4 separate regions of the Homo sapiens genome follow, and regions 2, 3 and 4 are each reported to be linked to region 1. Evidence: microRNA targets listed by miRTarBase, many of them from high-throughput screens and not tested one by one. Region 1 holds a microRNA gene; each other region holds the end of a gene's coding sequence.

The links. Region 1 holds the annotated microRNA hsa-miR-124-3p (UAAGGCACGCGGUGAAUGCCAA, at 3,282-3,303, opposite strand). A microRNA usually pairs through its seed, bases 2 to 8, with sites in the 3' UTR of a target mRNA and lowers its output. Matches are read on the target gene's strand: a 7mer-m8 pairs with bases 2 to 8, a 7mer-A1 pairs with bases 2 to 7 and ends in A, and an 8mer does both.
Region 2: the mRNA of TOMM34 is a reported target of hsa-miR-124-3p. Seed matches in the 3' UTR shown: 7mer-m8 at 5,333-5,339.
Region 3: miRTarBase lists HOXA3 as a target of hsa-miR-124-3p. The part of its 3' UTR that is shown has no 7-base or 8-base seed match.
Region 4: the mRNA of HLA-E is a reported target of hsa-miR-124-3p. Seed matches in the 3' UTR shown: 7mer-m8 at 1,734-1,740 and 7mer-m8 at 1,948-1,954.

The regions. Positions count from the first base shown.
Region 1 is chr8:9,900,118-9,907,117 of GRCh38, forward strand. MIR124-1 (microRNA 124-1) reads right to left here and starts at 3,355; the gene lies at 3,271-3,355. It overlaps MIR124-1HG (MIR124-1 host gene), which reads right to left and starts at 3,212. Exons shown (of 3, transcript NR_024281.1): 1 at 572-3,212; 2 at 438-495; 3 at 1-169. LOC124902057 (a long non-coding RNA gene) reads right to left here. Exons shown (of 4, transcript XR_007061170.1): 2 at 5,042-5,245; 3 at 4,415-4,511; 4 at 3,953-4,070.
Region 2 is chr20:44,937,212-44,944,365 of GRCh38, forward strand. TOMM34 (translocase of outer mitochondrial membrane 34) reads right to left here. Exons shown (of 7, transcript NM_006809.5): 6 at 6,242-6,368; 7 at 4,919-6,002. The coding sequence ends at 5,898. PABPC1L (poly(A) binding protein cytoplasmic 1 like) reads left to right here. Exons shown (of 15, transcript NM_001372179.1): 13 at 850-980; 14 at 1,463-1,537; 15 at 1,915-2,105. The coding sequence ends at 1,531. Among named protein-coding and RNA genes, the nearest start is that of TOMM34, 20 kb to the right of the region's middle.
Region 3 is chr7:27,102,206-27,109,359 of GRCh38, reverse strand. HOXA3 (homeobox A3) reads left to right here. Exons shown (of 6, transcript NM_153631.3): 6 at 640-2,350. The coding sequence ends at 1,445. HOXA2 (homeobox A2) reads left to right here and starts at 6,677. Exons shown (of 2, transcript NM_006735.4): 1 at 6,677-7,154. The coding sequence starts at 6,860. RefSeq lists an enhancer at 6,003-6,842.
Region 4 is chr6:30,491,885-30,499,038 of GRCh38, forward strand. HLA-E (major histocompatibility complex, class I, E) reads left to right here. Exons shown (of 8, transcript NM_005516.6): 6 at 520-552; 7 at 657-699; 8 at 865-2,310. The coding sequence ends at 697. Among named protein-coding and RNA genes, the nearest start is that of HLA-E, 6.0 kb to the left of the region's middle.

The DNA.
Region 1 (7,000 bases):
CATCCTCGTCACTGTGAATCAGCCAGCCCAGCCTCCAACACACATACCACCAGCACAACTCCTCATGTTGACTCGTGGGCCCTGAAACCACCCACAGAGTAGATGAGGAAAGGGAGGCTCCATCTGTCCTAGGGAGAACGCTTTGCAGCTGCCCCCAGAAGACTCCATTCTAAGGTTGGAATGGGAGGAGGATATTATGTAAGTTCAAGAGGAGGAAAGAGAAAATGTTTTCTCTGTGGAAGCAGCATAGATGGATGGACTTTTGGTGGCTAAATGCCTTCCTCTAAATGCTAGCATTGGATACGGTTATGCGGGAAAATATATGTGTGCATATGGGCACACCCCTCCTCCGAATATCTCTCTGGCAAAAGCTCCTCATACATTCACAAAAGCCGCCCCCCTCCCTTTGGTAACAGAAGTAACTTACAGGAGTTTACCTTTGCCTCTGCTAGAAGGTCAATCTCTTTTCCGCTTAAGAGGAGATCTGGGCTGTTTCTGGCAGGGGAAAGAAGAGTATCACCAATTTTTCCTTTGACACATTTCTAAATCTGGAAGTATCTGGTAGAGTTACCTCAAGAATCATATAAGCTTGCATCACGATGGGGACTGTGATGGCAGTGGTGCATATGAGCCCATCAGGTCCTTCTTCGCGTATTCAGTCAGCAAACTGCCTCAACCGTGTCCTACTTTTTCTTAAGCATATAATTCCCCTTTCATTTAAGCCAGACTGTAGCTAGAGGGGCTCAAATAGGTAAGAGAGAAGATACTAAAGAGTTAAATGCACTCAAAGGGGAGAACTATTCAGATTTCTTATAAAATTACTGGTGGCATAAATAGGCCCCAAATACAGAAGGGAAGGGCTGACCTTCACTCGGACACCTCATTTGAGCACAGAAGGGGCCTGGCAATTACACATGGGGCCAAGTGGTCTATTCATCTCTTTGCCATTTTCAGCCATTAAAGCCCTACATAAACATACATTTCATAATGAGACCCACCCGGTGGACACAGGCAAATGCCCACACCCATGCGCACAGACCTAATAGACCCAGAACACTCCCACACACATTAAAGCTTTCTGGAACAAGAGTTTACATAAGTAATGAAGTAAAAAATATGCCCCTCCCATCATAGATTATCTGCAGCAGAAACCTGGCAGGCGTCAGCCATGGTACCTGTGGTTTAAGCTCTCAGCTTAAAGCATCTGAAAGGGGCATTACGTGGGAAGGCATCTGGAGGTTTTACAGGAGGGCAGCACATCAGCGAAGGGTACAGCAACCTCTGAAGGAATTACGGGGAAGCAGTTACTAAAAAGAGGCTCGTCAATGTGGACGTTTGTGGGGCAAGGGGTTTAGTAATCGGAGGCTTAAACCATGCCTAAGAGAAGCATCCAGCGGCCTTCACAGTGAGCAGAAGGGGCAGAGCAAGGCGCTTCACACCCCAATAAGGCCCAGCACTGACTGCTTTCTTCTTCCCAAACCTGTCCAGAAAGGGCGGAGGGGACACCAGGACTCAGAAAGCTACTGGTTTCGGGGGAGGTATATTTTGAAGGCAACGGCAAATAGACAAGGGCTTGTGAAGGCTCAGGGGTGAGAGAAGCTGTTCTCCCTTTCTGTCCTGCAGCCAAGCTTGCCTTCTGGGACTCCAGAGGCAGCCCAGCACCTGCAGTCTGCAGGATGTGCACTGCAGCTTTCTCTCTGCGGGGGCAAGCAGGTTGTGCCACATTCTGCAGACCCAGAGAAGGTTCTGGAAGTATCTAGGTGAGGTGCAACACACTTAACCTCTGCCTGACTCTAAACACTGCTTTAGGAGGGCAAATGAAGAGCCTAAGAGTTAATAATTACACAAGGATTGCACACAGTAGGTACTTAATAAATATTTGGGGAAACTGAGGCCGGGGAGGGGCCCTGATCCAAGGCATCACTGAATACTAATTTATTTAGCAGGCTAGACTGAGGCTTTGGAGAGGAAAGAAGTCCTCAGTAAGCTTCAGTGGAGACTCTTAGGGCTTGATTATTGTGTCAGGAATCAAATTAATCTCCTAAGCATCCCTTATGGCCTTGGCCTTGCAAAGCCAGGCCTCTGCCATGCTCGGGGGAAGGGATGCAGCAGGCTTCCTGGGCAGAAGGATCCAGCTCTTGGCCTCCTTTCTCTGCTCCTCCCTCTACTGCAGGGACCTGCCCCTCCTCCATTTCCTCCACCTGGAAATTAATGAGCTTAGGTCTTGCCCCATCCGCTGCAGCTTGGTGGTTAATACAGAGCTGGAAATGGGATGAGACTGTGGCAGCGCAGTACGAGGGGGGTCTCTAGGACCAGCTGCTGCTCAGGGTCTAGTGATGGGAGGAAGGCCTGATTTGGGAAGCAGGTTCTTCAGGATGAAAAGCTTAACCCTTTCCATTCCCTGACAGCCTCTTTCAAAACAGTCTTTCCTCAGACCCCCAGTTGCACACATTCTGTTTTTCCTTCTGTTCACATTTTTAAAGGAACACATGTCTCCCTTGGGTCCATGTAGGTTATTGTGCCTCTCCCTTCCTCTGCAGCTCCTGGATCTCTGCCTGAAACTGCAATAACAGCTACAGGGAGGGCGTGAGGTGCTCCTTAGAGCCATGACCACGCTTTCAACTCCGATAGAGCTTGTGAACCCGCTGGGAGCTGGCTCCTTCTTGTCCACATAGCCCAACGACTTCCTTAAGCTTGTCAGGTGCTCTCAGCTCTACAGCAAAGTGTGACAAACAGCTCCCCCTCTCCCTTCCTACCGCCTGCCCTCCTCCCCAAACCTCAAGCAGAACACAATATATCCGCAGTCCAGGCCCTGAGGCAGTCTGCCAGTCTCTGGATGCCAAATTATTATTTTTTTAAGGGCAAACCAAAAAACTCAGCTCAGAACAAAAACACAGTCACGGAGGAAGGTGTTGACCCACATACAATGAGTCCTGAGCCCAGAGAAAAATCTGCACACACAAGCACTCCGCAATGCGCTCCCAGGCGACCCCCTCCCCACGCACACCGCATCTGTGCTGCACAGATCTGCTTCTGTCACAGAATCAGCTTCTGTTTCTCTCCCTGAGTCTGTTTGCATCTCTAAGCCCCTGTCTGTCACAGGCTGCACACCTCCCCACCCCACGGGCTCCGGTGCGGGACAGGCAGCCGGAGGGAGCTCCAGACCCCTCCCCTCGCGCCCGCGGCCGCTGCGCGGAGGTCTGCGGAGGGCGCCTGGCTCGGTCGGTCGCTCCTTCCTTGGCGGGCCCTCGCCGACCCACGGTGCTCAGCCAGCCCCATTCTTGGCATTCACCGCGTGCCTTAATTGTATGGACATTTAAATCAAGGTCCGCTGTGAACACGGAGAGAGAGGCCTTTCTCCTGAGGAAGGAAAGGAGGAAGGAAGGAAGGAAAGGTGAAAGAAAGGAAGAGGGGTGGGTAGAAGATGGAATAAGAAAACCAGGAAAAAGAAATAAAAAGCGGCGCGTGTGCGTGCGCACTGACAGCGGGGAGAGGGATGGGGGTGGGGAACGCCGGAGGAAGGGACCACAGCATCCTCCCCGCCGCAGCTCCCCCAATCACACAGACAATGAGATAACAGCGACGTCTTCCAAAGGCTCTTTGTTCTCCCCCATCCTTTCGCATCCAGGCTTTTTCCTGCAAAGCGGAGGGGGTGGAGGGATGGGGGTGTGGGTGGAAGTGGGAGACGGAGGGGTGCCTCCCCCGTGTTAATTACCCCGGCTCCCCTCGCCCCTTTCCCCGCGCCTCGCCTCCCCTGCAGCTCCAGACAATGAAAAAACAACATCGACCCCACCTCGCCCCAGCGCAGCAACCCACCCACCCATGTCGCCCTCTGCTTCGCCCAGGAAACTGAAGGGGACTAGGAGGAGGAAGAAGAGAGCGAAGGACAAGGAGAGCAGCGGGGACTCGGCAGCGGCAGCCGGGGCAGGGCGCGCGGCCGCCGCCTCTTTACCTCCATCGCTGAGTGGGGGCGCAGCCGGGCCGGGCGTGCCGCAGGGGCGAGTTGCCGCGGTCCGGGGCTGGGACCTGGGGATTCAGCCTTCCGGAACTCGCCTGCTGCAGTCCTCTCGCTCAGGTCCCAAGTGGTGGAGGGGGGAAAGGAAGAGAGACGAGAGAGAGAGAGACAGAGAGAGAGAGAGAGAGAGGAAGAAGAAGAAGAAGAAGAAAAAAAAACCATAAGAGCGAGGCCCATCTGGCCCCTCATCAGCTTTGTCAAGTCTTGCATACGCTAAAATGCTAATGACCTAGATAGCTCATGCAAAATGCAGCAGGGAGGGCGGGAGCGAGGGAGGTGGGAGGGAGGAAGAGAGAGGAGTGCAGGGGGGAGGGAGGGAGGAGAGGCGGAGGGAGGGAGAGAGGGAGAGAGCACCCCTACACTCTCCCCACCCCACCCCCAACTGTCAGCGGGCTTTACCAGGTAAAGGGTGGACGTAGATTTAAAAGGTCACTCGTGTATAATGCGGCTGGATCCCCGGGTCAAAAAAAGGGGGCGAGACAGAGGATGAGAGTCCCTAAAGCCAAAAGGACAATAAGACATCATTTTAAGCCCCCACCCCCATGCCCTCCTCCACCTCTCCACACTGTTTACACACAAATCCTGTCGCCGCCTCATGCATGTGCACGGACATGTCAATTTCTCATCAATTTCTCAGCGCTCCTATCGACAGACACCCGAATTCTCATTCCCAGCAAAACTCATCCACTGGACCCGAGGGAGGAGAAGACCCCTTCTCCTCCTCAGTGCTCTTCGGGCTGGCCCATCCCTACTCACCTCCATCTCCACTCTCTACTCCCTTAGCCCTCCAGGCAGCAGAGGGCTCCTTCTCTTTTCTAAGCCTTGAGTCCCCTGTCCCCTTTCCAACCCCCGCATCTTGAGAAGGAGACGCAGAGTAGCAGGAAAGCCAAGTCAAGTCCACCTAGGTCTCCCACAATTCAGCTACCCCTCCCAGAAAAAAAAAGAGACCCCAACAACCCCGACCCCTCTCCTACGTAGACACTGTGAAAGCAAGCCACAGGGACAAATAAAAGACAATCCGAATACCCTCAGCGTTCCGCACGCCGGGCGGACGCCCTTCCGCAGCGGCCACGCGTGTTCTGGGTTCAGCGCTCCTGCGCGTCCCTTCTCGCCGAACCCAAGGTGCTTTGTCCCGGCGGCCACACAAGGTCTTCGGCTTTTTGTTCTCCTTTTTTAAGAGACTGGCCGCAGTCCCCAGCGATTCAGCCGGCCCAACCAAAGGCAGTGGATCTACTGAAATGAAAAGGATCGAGATAATACACAGGCAGATGAATAAGGGGGGGGATGCTGGAGGTGCAGGAAGCATCCTGGGAGCGGCCGCCACGGCCAAGCCCGAACTGCTTGCTGCCTTCGCTGGGGAAGGCGCAGGAGGCGAGCCGGCGCTGGTGGTCGCTCCACCTGGCAGGAGGAAATGATAACCATGATAAGGAACGTGATGATGATGATGATGATGATGATGATGATGATGAGCATGATTTAAAAAAAATCAGTCTCCCTCTTGGTGAACCAGAGCATGCGTGCCGGAGGGACTGCACTGCTGGCGGCGGCGGCCGGGGGAAGGAGAGCGGCGCAGGAGGCAAAGGTTGAGGAGGCAGCACCCTCGGATGAATAATAACACCGCGCCGCGCAAGTTGCGGAGCCGCCTGGAAATCCAGCCCTTCGCGTGAACTCGCGTCGAGCGCGGATTGCAGGGGATGAGGAAGAAGGGGGAGGGGAGGGGAGGGTGGAGGAGGGAGGGGGAGGGGTAGAGGGGAAGGCAGAGAGGGACAGAGAGAATTGGGAGCCTTTTAATTTTTCCTTACCAAGCCCTAATCTCGTGCGCCGTCCTCTTTGGCTGAGGTCGAGCTCCTTTTTAAAAATTATTACTCCTTTAAAGGATTATTCAGGTAAAGGAAGCCGCATCTGCTGACGGTTCCGAAAACAAGAGGATTAGGAGCCCGTCCACAGATCCAGGCCCGCAGACCCCCACCCCCTCTGCACCAGCACACGTCATTCTCACTGCCCCCGGGTACCTCCCTCTCCTTCGTGCTCGGGGAGAGCTGTGCCAAGGAAAATGCGGATTTGGGGAAAGTGAGAAGTGGGAGAGCTCGGAAGAGCGGGAAAGCCAAGGCCGGAGGTGGCGATTCGCACCCCCACACTCACACGCGCTTCCGTTTATCCGTTTCTATCCCGGGAAAAGGGGGCGCCTGCCCGAGCCCACGCGCGCCGCCGCATCTGCAGCGGTCGGCGCCCCACGCTCCCTGAACGCCCCCCAGGCGGCACCAGTGCCGGGCAGAGTCCCCTCGGCGGCCGCGGGCGTCAAATCGACACCTGACTCCACAGCTCCCTTCCCTCTCCTCTTCTTCCACCTCCCCGGGGGTCCAGGCACCGCCGTGCGTCCACTCCCGGTCTCCACGGCTTAGGCAGACGGAGTGGGGGACTCCGGGGACCCGCGCGTCCTCTCCTCCTCGGCCCTGGCGGGAGGAGCCGGGCTGGGGTTTCCGCGGGCCGCGGCGCGTTTTAGGGCTGCCGGGGACTGCGGCGGATGCGGTTGACATCACTGCGGCGGCTGCCGGGCCGCTGCGGCGACCTGAGCGCCGGTGCAGCCTCCCCCACCCCGCCTGGGCGGGCGTCTGGGCAGGACAGCTGCGGGGGGTTGGGAGAGGAGTCGGGGAGAGGGGGACGATCGCCCCATCCCCCGCCCCCCCGCAGTCAAGGTGAACATGAAGGAGAGCCGGCGCGCGTGCCCGCGCCTGGGAGGCGCGCGGCCCCGCCCCTCCCGGAGCCCTCCAGCGCGCCCGGGCCAGATGGACGCCCGAGATTAGAGGCGCAGAAGTGCGCTCCACGACGGGCCCACCCGTCCCGCGGACATCAGACCTACTTCGGGGAGGCGCCTTTTGTTGTGGTGGCCGTGGCGGTGTTTGTGTCTTTCCGGGAGCACAGGGTGAGCTTGGCCTTCAGGAATGACTCAGAATGAATCCGCCTATAAGAGCCAAACTAAAGACG
Region 2 (7,154 bases), not on the chromosome of region 1:
TTCATCTTCACCCCTAGTGTCCATGGCAGGCCCTGATAAAAATGCCACTAAGTGAACACAAGCTTGTTCCTGGTTGGCAGGTTCTTTACTGCATGGCCCCCGAGACCTCCAGACCCTTTACTGAAGGCCCCCATTACCACTGCCCCATTGTTTCCTCAGCTTACTTAGGGTTTTGCCACATTACCCCTTCCCCTCACCCCGAAATTTTTTTTTTTTTCCCTGAGATGGAGTCTTGCTCTGCTGCCCCGGCTGGAGTGCAGTGGCACGATTTTGGCTCACTGCAACCTCCACCTCCCGGGTTCAAGTGATTCTCCTGCCTCAGCCTTCTGAGTAGCTGGGCTTACAGGCACATGCCACCATGACCAGCTAAGTTTTGTATTTTTATTAGAGATGGGGTTTCACCATGTTGGCCAGGCTGGTTTCAAACTCCTGATCTCAGGTGATCCACCCACCTCAGCCTCCCAAAGTACTGTGATTACAGGTGTGAGCCACCATGCCTGGCCTCACCCAGAAACATTTTGAATGAGCTTAATGGAAGTAGAAGTCTTTGTTAGTAGTTCTCTGTAAACATTTTCACTTTCTTCATGGGACGATCCTTTCCGCCCCCACTTAAGGCACCCAGTCCTGGCTGGGCCCTGGACACATTGCTGAGATGGGCTGACCACCAATACCAGGCCCAGTCATTAAAAGTACCTGATGTTAGAAGATCAAGTGTTAAATGTCATAGCCTAGAAGGAGCAGTTCTGGGAGAAGAACCCAGATGTCCTCAGTGCTCCACTCCATACGAGCCCTGGGATGCTGGGGTGTGAGCTAGGCCGTGCACAAGCCATTAGAAGGTGTTCCACACAGGGGAGCGTCTCTACCCCCTTATCCATGATGTCCACACCCAGCTGGCTGGCAAGATCACGGGCATGCTGCTGGAGATTGACAACTCAGAGCTGTTGCTCATGCTGGAGTCTCCAGAATCCCTCCATGCCAAGGTAAGCAGGAGCCTGGGCAGCAGGGAGCCCGAGGGGGCAGGAGGAGAGCTAACGACAAGGGCTCTCCTAGTGGAGCCAGTGGATAGCTGTTTGGCCAGATAAAGTGTTTCTTCTTGCTAATACCTGAAGGCCTGCTGAATCTTAAGAGTGGAAGGGGCCTTAGGTAAGGGTTTGCTACTTCAGCCCTTCCGTAGACTAATTCTGTGTTGTTCTGTAGGTAGGTCTTTTGGTACAAGGAAGTGTGTTGTGACTCAGTGTAAGGGTTAAGATTTTTCCAGCTGTCCAGCAATGTACCTCTGTGTCAAAGGTGACAGACAGGGCCATGGGATCTTGCAAGCAGTGGTGGATGGGAGGGTTCCACAGAAACCCTGTGGATGGAGGAGGATCCTGTATCCAGGATGGTGAGCGAGGGGGAGATCAAGGCTCTTCTGTGACCTGCTAAGATAGCTGCACTAAGCCCCCCCGCCACTCATGTCTCACAGATAGACGAGGCAGTGGCCGTGCTGCAGGCACACCAGGCTATGGAGCAGCCGAAGGCGTACATGCACTGAAACCAGGTGGGTGGAATGGTGACAGAAGCAGCTGAGCCCGGGAGAAGCTGTAAGGAAATAGGCAGGGACTGACTTTCACAAACACTGAGAATTGCGCCGTGTTCCTGGCTTTCTCTGAAGCACCAAAGAGTTTGGAGGAAGTTGTGAGAATCAGAGGAGATGATTAACTGTGATCGGAATGGGGGGTGGTGGAGGGTGAAGGAGGTGCCCTCTTGCCAGCTGCCCTGCCTGGCTTCATGCAGAATAGTTTGGGCTTTCCCAGGGCCCTGCCTGGCTCCATTCTGCCTGCCTGAAGGCCTGGCCAGGATGTAACCACCTTCTTTATTGAAGACTGGGTGTCTGCCATACTTTAAAAACACTTATTTTTACCTTTTTGTCCTCAGAAAAGGAAATCCTCGCTTCCATGGCTGCCAAAAGGACAGTGTTTCTGGCTCTCAGCCCTAAGGCCCTGCAAACTCTAACTTATTTCCCAATTAGTCTGTATCTATACTTGGGCTCTGTATGTGAATGAAGGTTGGTCACCCATCCAGCCTATTACCTTTTGCTTTGTGTATTAAAAGTGCTGCAAAATCTGCCTTGCCTCCCAGGAGGCCCTTTTGTGTCTGAGGGAGGTGGGGACAGAGCAAACGGTAGACATGACTGGGGTGGGGCTCAGGCTCTAAGAAACAGAAACCCTAAAGGAGTGCTGAAGTACACAGAGGGCATATACACAAGAGCAGGAGAAGTGTTAGGAACTGACCCATCAACAGTACAGTGGATGATGACATGGATATCACACAATGGACCAGAGCTACAGGGGCCCCCATCTGATGTGCATGCAGCCCCTGGCTTGGGCACCCTGCAGGGCAAACACCCAGCTGCTTCTCGGCTGGCTAAGGGGTTGTGTAACATAATTAACCCTTGTAGGAACGTTTTAGGGTACCTTCCCAGGTCAGGATTTTCCTCCCCTAATGGAGAAGTCTCTCGAAAAGCTTCTTTGTGTCAGTTAGTGCTCACCTCCCATCAGGGACGTACAGTCCAGGTCTTTGCCCTCTCGTGTACCGGAGCGGCCCAGTGAAAGTGGCTACTATGACCCAAGCAGACTGGGTTCTGCTAAAAATTCACCAGCAACAAATCTGACCGAGTCCTCAAGGCTGCTCTGCCACTCTCAGCAACTCACTCTTCCTGTTCTCCGCTCCACAGACCTCCAACCTGTCTTCACCATGTCCTGCCCACTTCTTTGGCTGCTTTTAATCTGTTCCCTGTGCAGCTCCATCGTCTTCTCCCCAAATCCTGACTGCTGGCATTTCTTTACTCTCAGTCCTGGGCCCTCTCGGTTTCTCATGCCATGTTCTCCTGAGCTATCTAATTTACAAGCGCATCTTCCATTTGTACCCAGTCGAGGATGACTCCCTGTTTTTTTCTTCAGCCCAGTCAACTCTTAAGAGCACCTGAGTCACCTCTCTTACATTCCACCGCCTACCTGCCATCAGCTCCTGGTTATCTTGGTAACACTCATGTCTAAATTCAAGCTTATGATTTAACTAAGTTTCTTTCTTTTTCATTCCTTGGTTCTTTTTTTTTTGAGACGGAGTCTCGCTCTGTCACCCAGGCTGGAGTGCAGTGACGTGACCTCTGCTCACTGCAACCTCCACCTCCTGGGTTCAAGCAGTTCTTTTGCCTCAGCCTCCAGAGTAGCTGGGACTACAGGTGCACTCCACCACACCCAGCTAATTTTTGTATTTTTAGTAGAGATGAGGTTTCACCATATTGGTCAGGCTGATCTCGAACTCCTGACGTCAGGTGATCCACCCGCCTCGGGTGGGGTTTACAGGCATGAGCCACCGTGCCCGGTCTTATTCTCTGATTCTCTCTTCCAGTGTTCTGTCTCCATAAATGGCCCCACCATTCTGTTGCAAAAGCCAAAATCAGAGGGTTTCCCCAGCCCTGCTGCCACACCACTTTCTCTCCTCCCCTCTTCCAGAGAAAATCCACCAACATGACCTCCTACCAGATCCAAATCCACTACCACTACCTAGTGGAATAAATCCACTAATTTGAGCTAAGCTCAACCCCTGCGCTCACTGCCTTCTGCCAGTTAACTGCATTTACCCTGGCCCTCCCGCAGTCTGTCCTCCACCATGCAGTCCTAAGGCTTCTTTCAAAATGCCTCTCTAATGTCTCATCCTTGCATAAATCCTGCAGTAGCTTCCCATCATTAGAATAAGGACTACTTTACACAGCCTAGGAGACCCTGCATGATCTGCTCTCTGCCCTGTCATTCCCACGTAACGGTGTTTTACCTTCTCTGGGAGTCGGGGTAGAATTCCATCATGACCATTAAGACAGTCACATTGATAGCTGTGTGTCCCTCTCCTAGAAACATTAACCTATGAGAAGCAGAAGTTTTATTCCTCAAAGCATCTCTGGAAAAGACTGAATGATGTTAAATTTCAAAGATGAGTGATGGGGATGAGGAAGCTTATGTTGTGTTCTTCAGACATTTTTGAAGTACAAAATGAGTAGTCTCTTCGGGTTGTGCCGGCCCCACCCTCTGTGTCTTCACTAGCAAATCAAGTTGCTTGCCTTCTAGAGCTCAGAATGATGTAAACCAGTTGTGACTGGATGTCACGAAACCTGCCTCACATCAGTCCTGCCTGCTTATGAGGCAATAAAAGGGGTACGGTGCCCCACTTTGAAACTGTCCCTTGACTGTGCCGATGGGGTTTGTCTGACTCTAACTCTGCTTCAGCCTGGATGTCTGTGATGGCTCAGACAACAGACTCATCCTTAAGAGAGCTCAGAGGTGGTGTGCTTAACGCCGAGTGCTGCCTAGCACTATGTGATGGGAGCCAAGGGATGATCAGACCCCTTTGTCTACTCTGCTCTGTGGAATCCTAAAACTCTACTTCCATTAGGTGAAAACCAGCCCAGGAAAGGGAGGCAGCCCTTGATTCTAGCTAGATCCTAGAGCACTCTCCAGCCTCACCCCATACCATGTTTTGTGAATTTCATCAGCCCTTTTAGGTCCCTGTACTCACTGGCTGTGCTCCCAATGAGGGCCTTACATGGCCGTTCTGTCCACGGTGTTTCCCTCCCCTCTTCACTAGTTAACCTCCCCATCTGGAACTCAATTCAAGCTTTACTTACTCAGGGACCCCCTTCCCTCCACTGCATCAAATTTCCCCTTTTGGGCAGGGAAATCACTGACGACTGCTTCACAACACTCAGGCAAGCTGCAATTTTACATGTGTGTGGTTGTCTGATTAACTTCTTGCCTTCCCACTGGACTACCAGCCCTCTGAGAGCAGGGGCTGTGTCTATTCACTGCTATCTATCTATCTCCCTAGCACTATTCACAGTGCCTGGCCCATGCAGACATGTCAATAAATTTGTTCAACAAATGAATGAATGCCCAATAAGCAATAACTTTTATTATTACTACAGAGTTCCAGGTGCAAAGCTGAAAAGGCATAAATGAAAGCACAGCAGATATTGATGTAGAAGAAAGCTTTTTAATGCAACAGCTTAAACACACAGTTCAACAAAATCAGTCAATTCAAATTAACTTCAACATATTACAAAGAACTATGAAGCCCGGAGAAGGCCACTGTTGGAACAAAAAACCAAGTCCCTGCCCAGAAAGCATGGACACTGACCAAGGAGGCCTCTTGCCCCCTCCCACCTCTAGGAGGAGCAGCCACAATCACTGGGCTCTTTAAACAGCTTAGGTGCCTCTCTGCAGAAGGCAGCAGCACAGAGTCAAGGACAACCATTCAAGGGTCAGGGCTCTGCCTTCCCACCAAAGGAGGGCCCGAACAGAAGGCACTGGGGCTCAGACATAGGAGACTGTGCAAGGACAGGACAGGGCAGGGACAGCAGCTGTACACCTGGAGAGACTGCAGCCCTGGAGAACCAGCTCAACAGGCTGCTTTGGATCAGGGCCTTAGGTTTATCCCCCTCCTTCCACCCCGGCCCAGGAGCTCAGGTTGTTCAGATGAACTGCAGTGAGTTGGGGTCTGGGGAAGCTACAAGGGCAGCACTCAGTCTGCAGCCCACTTGGGCAGGACAAAGCCAAATGCTTTGCTGATGAGGATCTGTTGGTGTGATCAGCTAGCTGGGCTGGGGGAATAGGGACAGAGCTTCAGCTTCACGCTTAGCTCTAGTGGGGACCTTTCTGGTGCAACAACCATGTCTGTGTTTGACTACACTGAGTTTAATTTGAACAAGCAAAGCCTCTTACAGGGTGGGAGGCCATCAAGGGATTGAGGAGGGGGCTTCAGAGCTCACTTGGGGCATGCTGGGTTTCAGGAGCGGGCACAGAGCAGGTGGCCCATGGCTTCTCTGGGTAAGGTCAGGCAGGGGTTCCAGTTGCCCTGTTGGGTTTTTAGTGTAGGTTCTGCTTCACTTCCTGCCGCAACTTCTGTGCAGGACCATTCCTAGGCTCAATCTGTAGGAGGTTGCTGATGTCTGCAAAGCTGGATTTATAGTCCTAATAGAAGAAAAGACAGGAGTGTGGGGGAAGGTTCCCGGACTGGGGTGGGGATAGCTGCTGAGGCAGCAAAGTGTTTTCAAACCCCAGCCCACAGGCCTGCTCTGAGTTATCCTGGGCCCAGGATGAGAAGGAAAAGCTGCAGATATTGTCTCAGCTTGGCTACACCCTGTAAATGGTGACACTGGCATAAATCTCTGTAGCTATGTTGGGACCTTTTGGCCAGGATTTTTTTTTACCTTGAGTGCTTTGTGGGCTTGAGCCCGTCTGTAGAATGCCTTCACGTTCTTTCCATCCAGCTTGAGGGCTTCTGTGCAGTCCTTCACTGCTTCTGTGTACTGCTTCAGGACCAAATAGCAGAGTGCTCTGAAGGGAAAGACCATTTCAGAGGTTTCAGTCACGTCTTATGGGCCACCCACATGCCACGCAGTAGTTTGAGAAGTGATCTCCAATTTGCTGAACACCTACTCTGTGCTGGTTACTTTATGTCTTCTTAAATCCTCACAACAATCCTAGCCCTTTTCATGGATGAAACATGCTGGCTCAGAAGGGTAAAGGAACTTGGGCCAGGTACCGCCAGTATTAAGGGGCAGACCCAGGATTCAAATAGGCGGGCGTTCGTTCATGGGACTCCAGATCCTGATCTCATCTAGTTCTATCATGCTGTACTGCGCTCTCCTATACTGAGCTCTTTCAAGCAAAGAAAAGGTTTCCTGAAACTTTTCCCTTGACAGATTAAAAAATTATCTACTTTAAGGGGGAAAAAAAAACCCAACAACTACTGAACTCTAATGATATAATGCTGACATGGGGTGAAATGTAAAGACGTTTGCAATTTACTTTTAAGTGCATCAAACACAATAATACAGACCAACAGATGGCTAAATAGTGATAAGGCAATGTAATAATACTAATTGTAGAATTTAGATGGTAGGTCTATGGGTGTTCAATGTACAAATCTTTCAACTTTCCTATATTTTGAACATTTTCATAATAAAATGTTGGAAAAAAGTTATGTGCATCCATACAATATATTCTGCATCTGTGGGTTCAAAAAAGTGCATGTGTGTATATATCTTCCTCATTCAGATCTAGTCCTTCTCTCCAAAGACAGTCACTAAAAACAAAACAGTCAGATGTCTGGGCGCTCAT
Region 3 (7,154 bases), not on the chromosome of region 1:
TAGTGGACAAAAGCTGGGGCTGGCTGCTTGATGACATAGGGAACCCTAAAGAATAGGACCTAGCATGAAGGGCCTAGGCCTCCCCACCAGAAATACCTTCAATGGGATCTCTTCTTTGGGCAGAGAAGGCCTTCCAGTTTGAGGTTTCCAGTCTGCCCATCTCCTCTGGGTAGAGAGAAAAAAGTGGCCAGTTGAAGCTACTGCCTAATTATTGTCAGACAGTGTGGGAGGGAAATGAGTGTGTACATTAGGTTTCCCACATTTCAGTTACTGTGAAGAGAATGGAGATGCTGAGACCGGCCCACAGGGAGGCTGTTGTCCGATAGGCCAAAGGGACCAGTAAATGAGTCAGAAAGTTAATAGCTCTAAACAGAAAATCCAGACCAGGAAGGCAAACCGGGGGTTCTACTTCTCTGTCCTTTCCCCCGAGAAGGCTGTGATTTGCTCCTTGGCTAAATGAGGGAGTATCACTGTTTTACCCACCAGGAGAGAGGATAGCACCTAGTTCCTACTTCTCTCTGGGACCTGACGGATGCAGGAACCTTTGGGGCCTGGTGGAAGGAGGGGCCGGGCTGGGTCAGGGGCTGGGCGGGGCCGCGGCAGCCCCTGACGCCGCTCTTCCTCTCTCTGTCCTCGCAGGCGAAAGCTGCGCTGGCGACAAGAGCCCGCCGGGGCAGGCTTCGTCCAAGCGCGCGCGCACGGCCTACACGAGCGCGCAGCTGGTGGAGCTGGAGAAAGAGTTCCACTTCAACCGCTACCTGTGCCGGCCGCGCCGGGTGGAGATGGCCAATCTGCTGAACCTCACTGAGCGCCAGATCAAGATCTGGTTCCAGAATCGCCGCATGAAGTACAAAAAGGATCAGAAGGGCAAGGGCATGCTAACGTCATCGGGGGGCCAGTCTCCAAGTCGCAGCCCCGTGCCCCCCGGAGCCGGTGGCTATCTGAACTCTATGCATTCGCTGGTCAACAGCGTCCCGTATGAGCCCCAGTCGCCCCCGCCCTTCTCCAAGCCCCCCCAGGGTACCTACGGGCTGCCCCCCGCCTCCTACCCTGCGTCCCTGCCCAGCTGCGCACCCCCGCCACCCCCACAGAAGCGCTACACGGCGGCAGGGGCGGGCGCAGGGGGCACCCCCGACTATGACCCGCACGCTCATGGCCTGCAGGGCAACGGCAGCTATGGGACCCCACACATACAGGGAAGCCCCGTCTTCGTGGGGGGCAGCTATGTGGAGCCCATGAGCAACTCCGGGCCAGCCCTCTTTGGTCTAACTCACCTCCCCCACGCTGCCTCGGGCGCCATGGACTATGGGGGTGCCGGGCCGCTGGGCAGCGGCCACCACCACGGGCCGGGGCCTGGGGAGCCGCACCCCACCTACACGGACCTTACCGGCCACCATCCTTCTCAGGGAAGAATTCAGGAAGCACCCAAGCTCACCCACCTGTGATAGTGGGCTTGGGGCTACGCGCCAGGAGAGTCTCCCCCCACCCACCTTTTTTCTTTGGTTGCTTTTTTTTTTTTTTTTTTTTAGGTTCTTCCTGCCCTTTCCTTCCTTCCTTTTCTCTCTTCTCCGCCCCGCACTCCGTTTCCCGGTTTCCCCCCTCGTTGGTAAGGCGTTTTTATAGTTTATGTGACGTAGCAATCTTGGTTGCTGGAATGGCTGTATCATAGCGATATTTATCTCTTCCTGCTCCTCGATAGGCCACTGGCCCTGCACCCTTTACCTTCTCCACTCTTTGATCAGAAACAGGGTATATGAACAAATTTTCTAGTCGAGTTTTCAATGTGAATTTGTTCTTACATTATGGCTCCCGAGGGGAAGCGATTACTTTTTTTAATTTTAAATTTTTTTTTTAATTGCACTTCTTGTAAAGAGTGAGAAAAAAAATCAAAGGCGCTTTGAAACAGGGGCTCTCTGTGCAAGGATGACTAAGTGTACGTCTTTCCGTGTGTGTATGCTGGTGAACAGTCAGATTTATTTATATTTTTTTGCAAGCATTGAATAATCTAAGTTTTAAATATTATTTATCCCCATCCGTTCGTATTTATATTAAAGAATTCTGTACCCTGATGGTTCAGAAGGGTTCTTGGGCCTTTTGTTCAATTGTGTATTGGCGTACTTAGAATTTTTTTTATTTGAAAGAGAAATATAATTCCTTTAAACGGTAACGATACAATAAAACCAGAGAAGATCCAGCTTTTGAAAACAGTGATTTAGGTTTGTAACATCCGGCAAAACTGAAAAAAAAAATCTGTAAACGCGAAAAATACTAGATTTGTTTTGAGAGTTCTTCATTCCTTGCTGCTCACATTCTGAGAAACAAAAAGAAATAAAGTTTTTATTCTGAATAATATCCGTGTTAAGAAGGGGTTCTTTGGCCGAAGACGTGGGTCTGCGTGGAATTCAGGCCGAGGCGAGCCGGCAGAGCAGGCCGGACGCAGCAGCCCTCTGGCTCCAGCATGGGGCCTGGCCAGGCTATTCGCCTGGAAGCTCGGCGAATTCTCAGGATGGCGGCTGGGGCTCCAGGCGGCTGCGGCAGCTCTGGTAACGCCGTGCGGCGGGCCAGCTGGGCTGCCCGGTTCCCAGCTGCTGCGGAGGCAGGCTGAGGGCGCAGGGGCTGCCGAGTGCTGTGCACGGAAGAAACAAAGACATCCCGGCCCAAGGCGCAGCGGGAGCGCACAGGTGCCCCGCGGCCCAGCCGGGGGATAACGCAGGGCGGTCTTCTGCTCCATGCTCTTCCTCGGGTCAAAGCGGACCAACTAACGCCTAAACCTCGGTATTAGCCAGCCGCGCAGAGGATGCCGAGCACTTTCCGGGAGCAATCGGACTCCTGGTCTCCTCCGGGGATGCTTCGCGGTCTGTTATCGCGTCAGGAGGAAAGAATTGCTCCAAAAATCTGCACGCGGAGCGAAACAGTTTGAAAGGGACTGAGGCTCACCCAGGTCTCCAGCAAACGGAGGACTGAACTGGGGAGAGTCACCCTGAGCCAGCCCTTCCCTGGACTGCCGGAATCCCAGCATTAGCTTCCTGCTGAATGTAGTATTTGGCATTCTCTGAATTTATTTCCTCTCCTTCCCCCACCCAGCTTTCTTTTTATGGCCCCAGGGGGAGGGGGAGAGAGCAAGGAGATCGGTATCTTTGTAATAAAACTGCAATTTTATAAATTTTTCATTTGATGTTGTAGGAGCTAAATATTACATTTCCACTCCTGGATTTAAGATAGGGCTGCTTACTGACTGGCTAGAAGAGGCAAAAGAAGGCACAGTAAAGGGAAATATTTTCATCTTCAGATTTAAGGATTCCTCGAGAAAGGAATCAAATTCAGAAAATGCAGACCTCAGACCTGCATCCCCATCATCACCCCCTTCAGAGCTAGAAGCGAGGAACTGCTTTCGTCTGGGGATCAGGAGCATCGGATGTGAGAAATAAATCCCTATTCTCCCTGGATTGTATCTTTCAGAGACAGAAGTGGAAAATGTCGCCATTTTGTTTGCAATCCAAAATATCCATCATCATGGCCTTTATCTTCCCCCTGTGAAGCTCCCTCAGATTATCCTTAGAAGCAGGCACTGGAGCCATTTCTGGGTACCTGCTGGGTCCCAACGAGCTGCTTTTAGAGAAACTCCTCATGGTTTAAGGAAAAGGCTCGGAGGATGCCAAGCCAGGCTGCTGTGGAGAGCTCAGTGTTTCTCTCACACCCAGAGGTGCTTTCCCCATATCTGTCCTAAGGCTGCTGATATATATATCCTTTTTAAAGGGTTTGGGCTATGGGAGAAATAGATTTCCTCTCCGCACCTCAACCTCTGCGCCAAAATATGGCGCACCTCAGAAATGCAGAGGCTGCAAAACCAGGCTTTGTGAAGACTAGAGCTTCCACCTCTTCGTCACGCTAAGCAGATACAGGAGTCTTCTTTTAAGTAATCAGCTTAGAGACACGTGTAAAATTACCTGGAAAAATAAGGAACAGCTAGGGGAGAGATTCACCTAAGGATGAAGATCCTTCAGGGATATCACTATTTGAACACGTTTCTGAAATCTACTCTTTAGCTGAGGGAGGGGTGGTTTGGAGGCTTCCTCCTTCCCCCAGGGCTAAGATTTTAAAATGAGATTCTAATGTGATTTCCCGCATCTTACCAGTCAAGACATTCATTTTGGCTTTCAAAGAAAAAAGTATTGACTTCACCCCCCAGTTTCCTAGATATTAAAAAGAAATCCTTATTAAAATATCTCATAAGTTAAAGTAATAGATTTGGGGAAGATTTCAGTGTTGAGTGGTCAAAGAAAAGGGTTTTCTTCCAGATGGTATTTGAATTAAGGCGGCTGAGGCAGCAGAAAGCTCTCACCCACGCAGCCCCTGACAAAGCCTCAGAGATATGGGGGCAGCGCTGCTCCCTCTCTGCACCCCCCGCCCACGTTCCCTTAAGCCTGTAATATTTTCTGGTAAAAGCAGATGCCAAAAGCTGCCATCCCAGGGTTCGCAAAGCACCCTTCCTAAAAGGAGCCCTATAACCCTTTTCACTGCCAAAATATATTTTTTAAAAGACTAGTTTTCCTTATTTACTTGCATTTCCTGCTCTCCTCTTTGCTCGGCCACATTTTATCTTGGAAGGAGCTGGAAGCTGAAATGTGTTCTTAAGGGCTAGAAGCTGTCAAGGCTTTTGGTGAGCAAGATTGATCGCGCCCAGACTTCCTTTGGAGCTTTGTTTGGAATAAAAGCAAGAAAACTAAAAAACCTCACATTTTCCAAAATAGCATCTCTATCTGCAAGGCAATGCTCTGGGCTGGTCAATGATATAGGCCACTTATGTCTAATTTCCACCCCAAACCCTCTTTGACGCTGGCCTCAGAGATGGGGTCCTGCCTTTGCTCCTTGGTTGGCCTTTCTTGTTTTCTACGTAGATTTTTCTCCCCCTCCAACCTCTCTCTCCCTGACCATCAGAATGATTTATTTTCCTGCCATTGATGCCTGCCGGCCTGGGGGAGTCTGATCAGTTAGTCTATTTCAAAGGAAGCAAAAGCGAATCACCATCCTCAGGGTTTGGGGGGGAAAGAGGTACCTCCAGATCTACCTCTCAGCCTCCTCACCTCTTTCTGGCTTGGTGGATTTTTTAAAAATTATTTTTTGGTACCTAAAGGTGTTATCTTTTGAACCCTCTAGCACTGTCCAAGATGCGCTCAGTCTCAAGTCTCCGAATTGGAAAAAAGATAATGAAGGAGAACGAAAACCTTTATAATTCCTCCTTGGGTCGCCTCCTCTCCCCCGCAGTGCTGTTTCCCACAACAGAACCCGGAAGCAAACATCCCCGGTGCCCAAGGATCAGGAAGGTGTGGGAGGCAGTTCAGGCTGCCAGGGAGCACTCGCTGTATCTAAACCAACCAGCCCCCAACCAGAGCGACAAGGACAAGAAGAAGGGTAGAAAAAAAAGAGAGAGGGAGGGAAAGAGAGGAGCAAGCATCTTCTCTTTCCCTGCTGGTAACTTCCAACAGACTTCCTGGAAATCGGAAATACTCACCGCACCCGAGCCCTACGGGTATGAAACCCAGAATGCCAGGAGCCGCACGCGCCTGCTCGGGGCGGCATTTCTTTGGCTGGCCGCCGCCCTGGCTACGGGGATTTGGACACATGGACCTGGGGTTGTTGTCTCGCTTGGCACATGCATCTTTCTCCAGCCACTCCTGAGAAGTTGATGGCGCAGGAAGGTCGGGAAGCTTCGAGAGCCGCCTCCCGTTTTCCGCTTCCCGCCGGAGCCAGATGCAAAGCTGCCGTGGAATAGCCTGCTAACAATGGGCCCGGGGCGCAGACTCTGGGCTGGACACTGGGAGGGGGGCGAGAGGCTGAGGGGAGAAGGGGAGGCGGACAGAAGAGAGAGGGAGGGAGAAAGGGGGAGAAGAGGAAAAAGAGGGAAAGGGACAGACAGGAAGGAAAACAGACCGAGAGAGATCAGTTTTGAGATCCAGGAACTGCTTTTAGGAAAAGTGAAGGAGGAAAAGGGAAAGAAAAGGAAGACCCCTTCCCAACCAAAATCTTTCCTTTCTTCTCTCTTTTCTGTCTTCTCTTTCTCCATCTCTCAAACTCTCTCTTCTTCCCTCTCTCTTTATTCTCCCTCTCTCATCTCCTCTCTTCCTCTGCTCCTTTCTCCTGCTTTAACAGAACTTATGTGGCTGGGACGCAGGGCCCTCGGGTGTCAAAACTTTGAAGATTAATGGATTACTTTGTTAATGACTGCAGGCGTCAGACTGAGGTGCTTAAATGATTTGTGAGGTGCGAGGCGTCTTCCCGACAGTCCCAAACAATGCGCGGAGTGTGCGGGGGAGGCAGAGGGCAGCCACCGGCGGGACCGACAGCAGGGCTTACACTCGCGCACATTCACACACACACACACACACTCCCAGGCACACACACTAGATAGATCCTTGCAGATCAGGAGGCACGCAGGCACCCTCGCCCCCACGTACTCCGGGACATCCCCACCCACACCAACATATATGTATTTTTGCTCTGAAAAAAGTGTAAATAAAGCCTCGCTGGCCCCCAATGAGGCGTTCCTTCCCGACTTTTTTGGATCAATCAAACAGACAGTGGCTTCTTTTGATTAAAGCCCAAATTGTCATTGGGCAGAAGCAATCATGTGACAGCCAATTCGGTCCAATTTCAACCTTGTCTCCATGAATTCAATAGTTTAATAGTAGCGCGGTCCCCATACGGCTGTAATCAGTGAATTAGAAAAAAAACACCCTAGCAGCGATATTCTATGATAGATTTTTTTTCCTCTGCGCTCGCCTTTTTCCTAGGCCTTGCCCCCCCAAAGCCCCTCCAAAAGAGGGAACTTTTTCTCTGAGGGGGCTCCAAGGAGAAGGCCATGAATTACGAATTTGAGCGAGAGATTGGTTTTATCAATAGCCAGCCGTCGCTCGCTGAGTGCCTGACATCTTTTCCCCCTGTCGCTGATACATTTCAAAGTTCATCAATCAAGACCTCGACGCTTTCACACTCGACACTGATTCCTCCTCCTTTTGAGCAGACCATTCCCAGCCTGAACCCCGGCAGTCACCCTCGCCACGGCGCTGGCGGCCGCCCCAAGCCGAGCCCCGCGGGCAGCCGCGGCAGCCCGGTGCCCGCCGGCGCCCTGCAGCCGCCCGAGTACCCCTGGATGA
Region 4 (7,154 bases), not on the chromosome of region 1:
CTCCCAGGTTCAAGCAATTCTCCTGCCTCAGCCTCCCTAGTAGCTGGGACTACACATGCGTGCCACCACACCTGGCTAATTTTTTTTTTTGTATTTTTAGTGGAGATGGGGTTTCACTATGTTGGCCAGGCTGGTCTCGAACTCCTGACTTTGTGATCTGCCTGCCTCGGCCTCCCAAAGTGCTGGGATTACAGTCGTGAGCCACCGCACCCAGCCGCACCTACTCTTTTGTAAAGCACCTGTGACAATGAAGGACAGATTTATCACCTTGACGATTGTGGTGATGGGGACCTGATCCCAGCAGTCACAGGTCACAGGGGAAGGTCCCTGCTGAAGACAGACCTCAGAAGGGCAGTTGATCCAGGACCCACACCTGCTTTCTTCACGTTTCCTGATCCTGCCCTGGGTCTGCAGTCACAGTTCAGGAAACTTCTCTGGGATCCAAAACTAGGAGGTTCCTCTAGGACCTTATGGCCCTGCCTCCTCCCTGGCCCCTCACAGGACATTTTCTTCCAACAGGTGGAAAAGGAGGGAGCTACTCTAAGGCTGAGTGTAAGTGCGGGGCGGGAGCGTGGAGGAGCTCGCCCACCCTATAATTCCTCCTGCACCACATCTCCTGTGGGCTCTGACCAGGTCTTGTTTTTGTTCTACCCCAGGGAGCGACAGTGCCCAGGGGTCTGAGTCTCACAGCTTGTAAAGGTGAGATTCTGGGGGTCTGAAGTGGGTGGAGGGTGGGGCAGAGGGGACAGGACTGGGTTGTGGGGATTTTTTGATTCAGAATTTTTGAGTGTGTGGTGGGCTGTTCAGAGTGTCATCACTTACCGTGACTGACCTGAATTTGTTCATGACTATTTTCTTCTGTAGCCTGAGACAGCTGCCTTGTGTGCGACTGAGATGCACAGCTGCCTTGTGTGCGACTGAGATGCAGGATTTCCTCACGCCTCCCCTATGTGTCTTAGGGGACTCTGGCTTCTCTTTTTGCAAGGGCCTCTGAATCTGTCTGTGTCCCTGTTAGCACAATGTGAGGAGGTAGAGAAACAGTCCACCTCTGTGTCTACCATGACCCCCTTCCTCACACTGACCTGTGTTCCTTCCCTGTTCTCTTTTCTATTAAAAATAAGAACCTGGGCAGAGTGCGGCAGCTCATGCCTGTAATCCCAGCACTTAGGGAGGCCGAGGAGGGCAGATCACGAGGTCAGGAGATCGAAACCATCCTGGCTAACACGGTGAAACCCCGTCTCTACTAAAAAATACAAAAAATTAGCTGGGCGCAGAGGCACGGGCCTGTAGTCCCAGCTACTCAGGAGGCGGAGGCAGGAGAATGGCGTCAACCCGGGAGGCGGAGGTTGCAGTGAGCCAGGATTGTGCGACTGCACTCCAGCCTGGGTGACAGGGTGAAACGCCATCTCAAAAAATAAAAATTGAAAAATAAAAAAAGAACCTGGATCTCAATTTAATTTTTCATATTCTTGCAATGAAATGGACTTGAGGAAGCTAAGATCATAGCTAGAAATACAGATAATTCCACAGCACATCTCTAGCAAATTTAGCCTATTCCTATTCTCTAGCCTATTCCTTACCACCTGTAATCTTGACCATATACCTTGGAGTTGAATATTGTTTTCATACTGCTGTGGTTTGAATGTTCCCTCCAACACTCATGTTGAGACTTAATCCCTAATGTGGCAATACTGAAAGGTGGGGCCTTTGAGATGTGATTGGATCGTAAGGCTGTGCCTTCATTCATGGGTTAATGGATTAATGGGTTATCACAGGAATGGGACTGGTGGCTTTATAAGAAGAGGAAAAGAGAACTGAGCTAGCATGCCCAGCCCACAGAGAGCCTCCACTAGAGTGATGCTAAGTGGAAATGTGAGGTGCAGCTGCCACAGAGGGCCCCCACCAGGGAAATGTCTAGTGTCTAGTGGATCCAGGCCACAGGAGAGAGTGCCTTGTGGAGCGCTGGGAGCAGGACCTGACCACCACCAGGACCCCAGAACTGTGGAGTCAGTGGCAGCATGCAGCGCCCCCTTGGGAAAGCTTTAGGCACCAGCCTGCAACCCATTCGAGCAGCCACGTAGGCTGCACCCAGCAAAGCCACAGGCACGGGGCTACCTGAGGCCTTGGGGGCCCAATCCCTGCTCCAGTGTGTCCGTGAGGCAGCACACGAAGTCAAAAGAGATTATTCTCTTCCCACAGATACCTTTTCTCTCCCATGACCCTTTAACAGCATCTGCTTCATTCCCCTCACCTTCCCAGGCTGATCTGAGGTAAACTTTGAAGTAAAATAAAAGCTGTGTTTGAGCATCATTTGTATTTCATTTGTGCGTTTTGTGCCTTGTTGTTTTAATTTTTTAACCACATTCAAGCTATCCTTTGGCTTCCAATGCCATGGTCCACCCAGAACTGCATTCACTGGCCCATGTTCTAGTTCTGGTCATGCCGACTTTCCCGTTTTCCTGGTGAATCCCTGTAATCACCTGAGTCTCATTCTGTCAGGTGATATCCAGTAAGAAGGCAACATGTGCGGTGAGAAAGCCCAGGGAGTCCTGGGTGTGAATTTTTACTTTGCCATTTCTTCCTGTGTGACACGCGGTGGGGCTTCACCTGTCTGAGCTCCAGTTCCTCATCTTGTACGTGGCACTGTTTTCTTGGGAGAGTCATTATAAAGCTAATATAAAGTACCTGTACTGTGGTTTGAATGTGTCCTCCAAAAAGCATGTGTTGGAAACTGAATCCACAATGCAACCATATCGGGAAGTGAATCCTAATGGCTGGCTGGCCATGGAGGTTCCAACTTTATGAATGGATTAATACTGATTATAAAAGGGCTTGAGGTTGAGGCAAGTTCAACCTCTTGCCCTCACTCACCCACTTGCCTTTACCAAGAGATGATACAGCAAAAAGACTCACCAAATGCCGGGATCTTGATATTAGACTTCTTATCCTCCAGAACCATGAAATAGGCTGCTTTGCTTTATAAATTACTCAGTCTGCGTATTATATTACAGCAACACAAGATGGGCAACCTGATACTTAGGTTTCAGTTAGTGGTAGATATTTTTATTTCAAGCATTCCTACTGGAGTATTAGTTTCTTCATAAGCCCAGAATCTTTGCATTTTAGCAACAACAAATAAGTCTTTTTTTTTTTTTTTTTTGAGACTGAGTTTCACTCTTGTCACCCAGGCTAGAGTGCAATGGCATGACCTTGGCTCACTGCAAACTTGGCCTCCCAGGTTTAAGTGATTCTCCTGCTTCAGCCTCCCAAGTAGCTGGGATTACAGGCGCCTGCTACCACGCCCAGCTAATTTTTGTATTTTTAGTAGAGACAGAGTTTCATCATGTTGGCCAGCTGGTCTCGAACTCCTGATCTCAGGTGATCCACCCACCTTGGCCTCCCAAAGTGCTGGGATTATAGGCATGAGCCACCACGTTCCACCAGAAGTCTTAATTAATGCAAAGAAAATCAATCTATAGATTTGATGGAAATTTGGACTCCTATATCCTACTTTTTATCCCACTCCTATATACTACTCATAAGGAGTATAGAACTATTTTCCTTCTCTACTTGGTCTGCCCATTTCTACTTCCTGCCATATCGGCAGGCTATGTTTGCCTCACCTCAAAGATCTGCCTTCCTCAGTTTTAGATCTTAAATCTTTTTAAGCCAGACTCCAAGGGATCTTTAACAAATATTTATCGAACCCTTCCTGTGTTCAAAGAATGTTGTGAGGTCCAGGGTGGGACTAGGGGGCGAGAAAGGTTCCTGCGCTGAAGGAATCTAAGATTTAGTAACAATGAATAAACAGACTTGAAGATAACTATTGTGGTTAGCGCTGAAAGAAACGTACAAAATGCCAAAAGTCAAGGAGGAAACTATGTTTTCTAGGACAGTGGTTCCCAACATTTTTGGCATCAGGGACCGGTTTCATGGAAGACAATTTTTCGGAGGGGTGGTTTTGGGATGATTCAAGCGCGTTACCTGTATTGTGGACTTTATTTCTATTATTACATTATAATACATAATGAAATAATTATACAACTCACCATAATGTAGAGTCAGTAGGAGCCCTGAGCTTGTTTTCCTGCAACTAGACAGTCCCATCTGAGGGTGATGGGAGACACTGACAGGTCATCAGGCATTAGATTCTCATAGGAGCGAGCAACCTAGATCCCTCGCATGCACAGTTCACAATAAGATTCACACTCCTATGAGAATCTAACCCCACTGCTGATCTGACAGGAGGCAGAGCTCAGGCGCTAATGCTTGGTCACCTGCCACTCACCTCCTACTGTGCAGCCCAGTTCCTAACAGGCCATGGACCGGTACCAGTCCATGGCCCAGGGCTTGGGAACCCCTGTTTTAGGAGACTTAGGTTTTTCTAAAGGAAAAAATGTTTGAGTTATGCTTTGAAAAATGTAAGACACCACTGTAGATGTTTTAATCAGGGAATTGGGTTATTACCAAAAAAAAAATGTTGGAAGATGAAAGAGCAGGTTCTTTATGCCTCCTGGCTTGACCCTGGAACAATTTAGAACCAGCCCAGTGAGGCATGTACTCCCCATGAGGCCACACAAGAGCTGTGCTTTCTTAGATCTGGATCCCACTACCACATAGGGGTTCCTGGGCACCTGGACACCAGGGAAGAGGGGTCAACCAGGTCCCACTCCTCTGGCATGACACTCAGTGATTCAGTCAAGATACTGTTGGGAAAACAGCCCATGCCATGGGACTTCCCCATGGTCGGAAAAGTCTTGAATAGCTAAAAGCAAAACAGGATAGTTAGGCTGCATTATGTAGATAATGGTGACTCATGGGCAGGCCCTGCCTCCTTGGGCCATTGTATGTGAACAGATCTTTGTGTGATTATGGGATAATTCTGGGTTCTTTTCTCCATGTGCCTGTTCTTAATTGGCCCAGGAGAGGGAACCCAAGGGAAGGAGGAACCCGAGTGATCTTGTCCTCTTTTGACATCTCATTTCTAGCCACAAGGTTATGAATCATAGATCTCCAGAAGTCAGTGGTCCTAGAGGAAAAAAGCATCTGCCATAGCAGCAGAATGACAGGGAGACAGCTATTCCTATTACTAGAGTTTTAACAGCCCCTCTCAGCCAGCTAGCCCAGACTAGGATCTTAACGGGGGCTGGGACTTACTTCCATATATTGTAAATGATGTAACCTTGTCTTCATGATGACCTTAAATATATCTTGATGAACAGTATAAGAAAGCAAATGAAGCCTGGGCGCGGTGGCTCACGCCTGTAATCCCAGCACTTTGGGAGGCTGAGGCGGGTTGATCACCTGAGGTTGGGAGTTCAAGACCAGCCTGACCAACACGGAGAAACCCTGTCTCTACTAAAAATAAAAAATTAGCTGGGCGTGGTGGCGCATGCCTGTAATCCTAGCTACTCAGGAGGCTGAGGCAGGAGAATCGCTTGAACCCAGGAGGCTGAGGTTGTGCAGTGAGCCAAGATCACACCATTGCACTCCAGCCTGAGCAAGAAGAGTGAAACTGCGCTTCGAAAAGAAAGAAAGAGAGAGAGGGAGGGAGGGAGGAAGGAAGGAAGGAGAGAGAAAGAAAGAAAGAGAGAGAGAAAGAAAGAAAGGAAAGAAGGAAAGAAGGAAAGAAAGGAAGAAAGGAAGAAAGAAAGAAAGGCAAATGATCACTTAGAGGATTTTGTTTGGTAGTTAAAACCATTTTGAAACAGAGGGAGGGAAGAAATCACCTATGCTTCCTCAGTGGTAAAGAGACTGGGAACCACCACGCCAGAGTTAGAAAATATGAGGCAACAGAAGGGCTGTTATATGTAGTGAAAATTTCCAAACCCGGTCCCCTGGAGGGAATACTTGGTGACTGGGCCTTAGAGGAAAGAGATGCTTGTCCAGCCCATTGCCTGTGTGTCCAGGAGAGACTGTGCCCACCTTGAGAGACTGAGAGAAGACCCTAGTGAGGAGAAGCCCCCAGGCCAGCCGTCAGCACAGGGCATTGGAGGTCCCCAACCAGCTCCAAGTCCTGAACAGAGCACAGCCTCCAGAGGTTTGTACTGTTCATACCCAGCAGAGGCTGTGTGCCAGCCCTCCCCATGCAAATCAGCGTCCCTGCAGGGTATGTAAAGGACCTCTACCTATGCTTTCTATGGGGGAACAAATATCCCATGGGACACTGAAAGACTATGGAACATTGTAGAACATGTATTTACCAAACTGTGTCCAACTCAGAGCCTAAATTGTTTATTGGTGCTGTTTCAACCAGTACACGTGATTCTTTTTTTTTTTTTTTTTTTTAGTATTTATTGATCATTCTTGAGTGTTTATCGGAGAGGGGGATTTAGCAGGGTCATAGGACAATAGTGGAGGGAAGGTCAGCAGATAAACATGTGAACAAAGGTCTCTGGTTTTCCTAGGCAGAGGACCCTGCGGCCTTCTGCAGTGTTTGTGTCCCTGGGTACTTGAGATTAGGGAGCGGTGATGACTCTTAATGAGGATGCTGCCTTCAAGCATCTGTTTAACAAAGCACATCTTGCACCGCCCTTAATCCATTTAACCCTGAGTGGACACAGCACATGTTTCAGAGAGCACGGGGTTGGGGGTAAGGCTATAGATCAACAGCATCCCAAGGCAGAAGAACCTCTCCCAGTACAGAACAAAATGGAGTCTCCCATGTCCACCTCTTTCCACACAGACACAGTAACAATCTGATCTCTCTTTCTTTTCCCCACATTTCCCCCTTTTCTATTCGACAAAACCGCCATCGTCATCATGGCCCGTTCTCAATGAGCTGTTGGGTACACCTCCCAGACGGGGTGACGGCCGGGCAGAGGGGCTCCTCACTTCCCAGACGGGCCGGGCAGAGGCGCCCCCCACCTCCCGAACGGGGCGGCTGGCAGGGCGGGGGCTGCCCCCCACCTCCTGGACGGGGCGGCTGCCGGGCGGAGACGCTCCTCACTTCCCAGACGGGGCGGCTGCCGGGCGGAGGGGCTCCTCACTTCTCAGACAGGGCGGCCCGGCAGAGACGCCCCTCACCTCCCAGACGGGGTGGCGGTCGGGCAGAGACACTCCTCAGTTCCCAGACGGGGTCGCCGCCGGACAGAGGCGCTCCGCACATCCCAGACGGGGCGGCGGGGCAGAGGCGCTCCCCACATCTCAGACGA